2 separate regions of the Homo sapiens genome follow, and region 1 is linked to region 2. The links come from fine-mapping of genetic effects on gene expression. Tissue or cell type: monocytes after LPS. Region 2 holds a variant in brackets; the other region holds the start of a gene. All regions are shown on one strand. Distances are between the middles of the regions.

Region 1 (2,759 bases), 42 kb before region 2:
GGTAGTGAGCTGTTTCCTGGAGAAGCCTGCGTCTGGTTCCAGAGGGAAGTGAGTTTCTAAGAGAAGGCATCTGTAGGAATTTTGCCCATCAGCCGTGACACCAGCACTGCTGTTGGAGGGATGAACAGCTCATGACAAAGTCCTGTCTCCTCTCTCCCCTTCCCCGTGTCTGTGCAATATCATTAGAACTGGCAGACCCTTATTAAAAACAGTTGGCCACTGAGAGGCTATATCCTGTGTGAGACAGAAGCCCAGATGGTAGGTGGTCTTACTTTTGGGGTGGGGTGTTCCAGGTGGTAACAGCCTCGAGGGCGGGAGGACCATGCCGCCTGTTTCTTGGCATCCGTAGGTGGTTCCTGCCTCCTTCCCTTTGGCAGGTGTGTGGGAAGGATTGAGTGTGAAGGGATGCTCACAAGCACTGAGAAGATGGCCTGGCACTTGTGAAATGACAGAGGTGGCCTGGGAGGTGTCCCGGACCCTGGATTTAATGTGCAACACATGGTTCAGTCGGTCCCAATGTTGGGACTGTAGAGAACGTACCAGAAGCCTCACAGATACTCAAGGAGTCGTGATTATTAGGACTGGGCTGAGTTAGCTCTATCTAGTACTTTGTAATTTTAAAGACCTACTCAAGCAATATTACAATATAAACGGGATCACATGGACTACCTTTCTACTTCAAACAACTCCAGAGGCATCCTGCTGTGGATAACAGAAGCTGATTCTCTTTCTCTCTCCGCCTCCTCCTCGTCTTCCACCTCCCTCATAAAGCATCCCCCAGCACTGACAGGGTACCGTCATAATGATGGTTATATTGAACTATGTGAGTGCCTACTCTTTGCTAACCAAACTAAATTATTAGTTGCATCATTTCATCTCAACTTCACACAGTTATTATATTTTTTCCTTTTTCTTTTATTATGGCAAAGTCTAGTTAATGTAAACCTTGCCATTTTAACTTTTTTAAAGTGAATATTTCAGTGGCATTGGGTCCATTCGCATTATCGCACCACCATCGCCACCGTCCAATTTCAAAACTGTTTCCATCCTGCAGAACTGGCACTTAGTATTCATTACACGACCCCCTCCTGCAGCCACGCTGGGAGCTGACCCTCTCCACCCATGCTTCGTGCACTCAGGCGCTCATCCAGGGATCATCCTGTACCTCAGACTCTGCCAAGAACTGTCCGGCCCCAGGGCCTTTGCAAGCGCAGGTCGCACGGCCTGGGATGCCCTCTCCCAGCTCACCACATGGCTGGCTCTTTCCCATTCATTGGCCTCAGCCCAGTGGCCTCCTTCTCGTCAGAGAGGCCGCCCCTGCCTGCCCTGGCTGGCCGGCCCCTCCCCCACAATGACTCTATGACATCATCGTGTTCCTTCTCCTCGGAGCCCTCAGACCCTCTGAAATCCTCTGGTCTGTGTTTTGTTTCCTCCGTCTCTATCTCTCTCCCCACTAGAAGGCAGGTCTCAGGAGGGCAAGGACCCGGCCTGTCCAGCTTCCAGCCGTAGCCCCAGGGCCGGGTGTGCAGTAGATACTCAACAAGCCTTCTTTCCTCCCACCAGCCTTTCCTCCACAAGGGGAGACAGGACTTGGGGGTGTTTTTGGGGGTCTAAACAACACAAAGGAAAGAGACGCTGAAGTGGGTGAGCTGGCCTCGCACTGCACTTCCTGCTGGAGTTCAAAGTCAGCCCTGCCCCTGGAACTGCCATGGCCAGTTTAGATTGTTCCAGAATCCCGCTGCAGGCTGTTCAAAAGGCTCCCAGCTGCTATCAGGAAATAGCTCAGGAAGGTCCCTGTTAAACACCACCCCCATCCCCGTAACCCTGAGCAGCCCTCCGCCACCTGCTATTTTCTATCTCTGAGAATTTGCTGACATTAGGCAAGTCATGTCTGTGGAATTATACAATGTTTGTCCTTTTATGAGTGGTTTGTTTCACTCGGCACCATATCCTCAAGGCTCACTCATGTCATAGCAGGTGTCAGAACTTCCTTCCTTTTTAAGGCTGAATAATATTCCACTGTATGGATGGACCACGTTTTGTTTATCCATTCTCCTGTCAATGAACATTTTCGTTGCTCTCAGCATTTGGCTGTTAGGAATAGCGCTCTGAGGACATTTGTGCACACGTGTTTGCATGGATTTAATTGTTTTTCCTTTTCTTGCCTGTTCTTGGGTGTCGTGGCCAAGAAGCCACTGCCGAGTCCAACATTGTGAAGCTTTCCCCCTATGTTTTCTTCTAAGAGTTTTGTAGTTTTTTTACATTTAGTTATTATGGTAATGCCTTTGATCCTTTTTGAGTTAATTTTTTGTATCTGGTGTAAGAGAAGGGCTCAACTTCATTCTTCTGCGTGTGGTATTTGGTTTTCCAAATACCATTTTTTGAAAAGACTGCCCTTTCCCCACTGAAGGGTCTTGGCTCAAGACACTTGAATGTCAAATAAGTCAAAGGGCTTCTTTCTGGGCTCTGTGTTCTGTCCCATTGGTCTATCTGTCTGTATGTAGGTCAGGACCACAGTGTTTTGATTGTCATAGTTTTCTAGTAACTTTTGAAATCAGAAAGTGTATGACTTCCAACTTCCTGGTTTGTATTTTTACATTTTATATTTTGTCCCCATTTTACAGATGAGACAAAGGAAGCTCAGAGAGGGGAACTGACTTCCGAGGTCACAGAACAAGCAAGGGTGGGACAGGATTTGAACCCAGGCTTGTTTGACCCCAGCCCCTTTCAACAAACATTTCTGTCTCAGCTTGGATCAC
Region 2 (2,759 bases):
GTGCTTCAGCCTCTTGTCCCCACACGGAACAGAGGAGGTGCCCAGTGAGTGTCTAATAATTGAAGGTAAGTGATGCATCTTAAACCAACACAGAGTCTTCGACATTGCCCAGCTCACAGAAAGACGCATCACATCCAGAGAAGGGTGGCAGTGCCAGTCCAATGAGCCCATGGCCAGCAAGGTGGGAGATGTCCACGTGGCCCCAGGCCCCAGCTGGGGGCTTGGATTAGGGGGAATCTCAGGGAGCAGGGCTGCGCCTCTTAGAAGTCAGGCACAGCTAGGTCTCAGTCGCACCTGGCCACTTCCACCAGGTGTCTGACCTTGACCTTGAACAGGACTGGCCAGCATCTGAGACCTCGAGCGAGCAAACAGCTTGAGAAAACATCAGAGGTGTTACTTCAGTAAGCAGCACCACTGTCAGCCCTAAACGGGAAAACAAGGGAGAAACATGCTCGGGGCGCCTCCTGGGAGCTCGGGGCACCTCCTGCGACGTCACAGCACCCAGAGACGTAGGTTCCGGTTTCATCTTCACACAACTAGAGCCCCTTGTTTGAGCTCCATTTTATAAACAAGGAAACCGAAGCTTAGAAGGTGAAATTACTTTTCCAAGTTGGAATAATCAGACGGGTTTCCTGAGGCCTCTGGGCACCCATAATAACAATTTATTGATCAAAATTGAATGAATGAATAAATGAATGAATAAATGAATTAGTGATAAATCCCAAAACAAACCAAAAAAAGGTAACAACTAGAAGAAAAAGATATGATATGAAAAGTTAATTGATTATAATCTATGGTACTATACATTAGGTTGTATAGCTTTCACAACTTCACAAAAACTTATTTTTGATTCCTAACAAATAAAAAATACTAACACATATGGTAATAATATTCTATAATAACATTTTAATTAATGTTATTAATAAAAATATTAACATATTTTTAATTAAATAATAACACAGACACATAGAAATCACTTCCTGGCTTAACACATACTTGGCTGAATTCCTTGGTCCACGTATCACCCTGAATCTGAAACATCCTTTCTGCACCAGCCATTGACCCAGGAACTGAAACAGAGCATTGAACCTCACTAACAAGTGTGTGCTTACAATTTCTTCACCCAAAAAGTATTTCCACTTATCAAGAGATGGCATTTCCTCCAGGGACGTAAGCATCCTGTGTGAGGC[G/A]AGAGTGACTCAGAGGGAGGGCCTGGAGAACAGCTCCCAGCAGCCCACACATGGTGACTGCGTGAGCGGCCTGTGGCCACCACAATAGTTACCACAAATTGGGTGGCAAAAGACAAGAGAAATGTATTCCCCCCAGTTCTGGGGGCCAGAAGTCTGAAGTCAAGTCATCCGCAGAGCCCTGCTCCCTCTGAAGCCTCCAGCGGGGATCCTTCCTGCCTCTTCCAACTCCTGGTGGCCCCAGGCATTCCCTGGCTTGTGGATGCATCACTCCCATCTCTGCTTCCGTTTTCATGTGGCCTCTCCTCTATGTGTGTCTGTGTCTTCTCTTCTGCTTCTTATGAGGACACCTGTCATCGGCTTTACAACCCACCGTAAGTTCAAGACGATCTCATCTCAAGATCCTTATCTTAATTATGTCTATGAAGATTCTATTTCCAAATAAGTTCATATTCGTGCGGTCTGGAAGATTAGAATGTGGACACATCTTTTTCAGGGACACAATTCACCCCACTGCAGTGACCACAGCCGGATCAGACTCGTTCACCCACTTCAGTGACCACAGATGGATCAGACTCGTTCGCTCCCTGCAGTGACCACGGCCGGATCAGACTTGTTCCCTACAAAGGGGATTTCTCATGAGAGCCAGTCACACGAGGGCAGAGACTTTGGTTATCCTCGCCCTGGTAGCTTCAGCATCTGCGCTGCATGTGGTAGGAGGCTTGATCACTTCTGAACAAACACACCAATGAGTAAATGAACGAGCGGCCTCACAGAGCAGCGATGGGGACTTTCTGATGAAGACCAGGTTTTCAGACGGCGGGAGGCCTTGGCTTTGAGGTGTCAGTGGGTGCAATGGTTAATATGGCACTGATTTTAGCGAGTGCCGACTGCGCAATGCCATATCTTTTAAAGGGCACTATAGAATCCCAGAGTTATTGAGTAGGAAGGAAGCCTGGACACTCCTCAGTCCAACTTCCTCACCTGCAAGGTGACAAAACTGAAGCCAGAGAGGAGGAAGGATTCACCCAGGTCCCCCAGAGTCAGCAGCTAAGGAGAGTATAGAAACCAGGCTTCTGACTTCCCAGCCAGTGCTCCACTGAGACCCAGCTCCCCTCCCTCTATCATCATCTCCATCATCCTAATCTCAGCCACGACTCCCATGACCTTGGACTCTTCCTGCTTGGCTCTATGTTCAGCATCTCACATACATCAACTCATTTAATTCTCTCAACAACCCAGTGCTTTACATAGAATCCTTATCTCCATTCTACAGGTGGCACAACTGAGGCTCTCAGATAATTTCCCAAAGGTCTGACAGCTAGAAAATCATGTAATCTGATGCTTAAGCCAGTGCTCCAAGCCAGAGGTGAGCAAACCATAGTCTGTAGGACAAATCTGGCCCATCACCTGTGACCACAGCCAGATTCTGCCACAAAAACAGGAGAATTCTCCGAGAACACATCCAGTTTAATTACAGCACAGTCACACTCGTTATTCAAAGCATCATCTCCGGCTTTCTTCCCTGCTGCAATGGCAAAGCTGAGTAATTGAGAGAGACAGTAGGAACTG

Which allele goes with the higher level. Positions count from the first base shown, and alleles are read on the strand shown. Sizes are in standard deviations (SD) of each study's normalised expression.
In carriers of allele A in region 2, the expression in monocytes after LPS of the gene that starts at base 1,353 in region 1 tends to be higher than with G alone (large effect, 0.83 SD a copy in Quach 2016).

Evidence for each region. PIP is the estimated chance that this variant, and not a neighbour inherited with it, causes the effect.
Region 1: LINC00917 starts here. The variant in region 2 is the best candidate, but not a certain one, in a credible set for the expression of LINC00917 in monocytes after LPS (Quach 2016, PIP 0.75).

What each region holds. Positions count from the first base shown.
Region 1 is chr16:86,344,327-86,347,085 of GRCh38, forward strand. LINC00917 (long intergenic non-protein coding RNA 917) reads right to left here and starts at 1,353. Exons shown (of 7, transcript NR_024406.1): 1 at 1,166-1,353.
Region 2 is chr16:86,386,474-86,389,232 of GRCh38, forward strand. No RefSeq gene overlaps it. Among named protein-coding and RNA genes, the nearest start is that of LINC00917, 42 kb to the left of the region's middle. The variant G/A (reference allele first, on the strand shown) is at 1,191.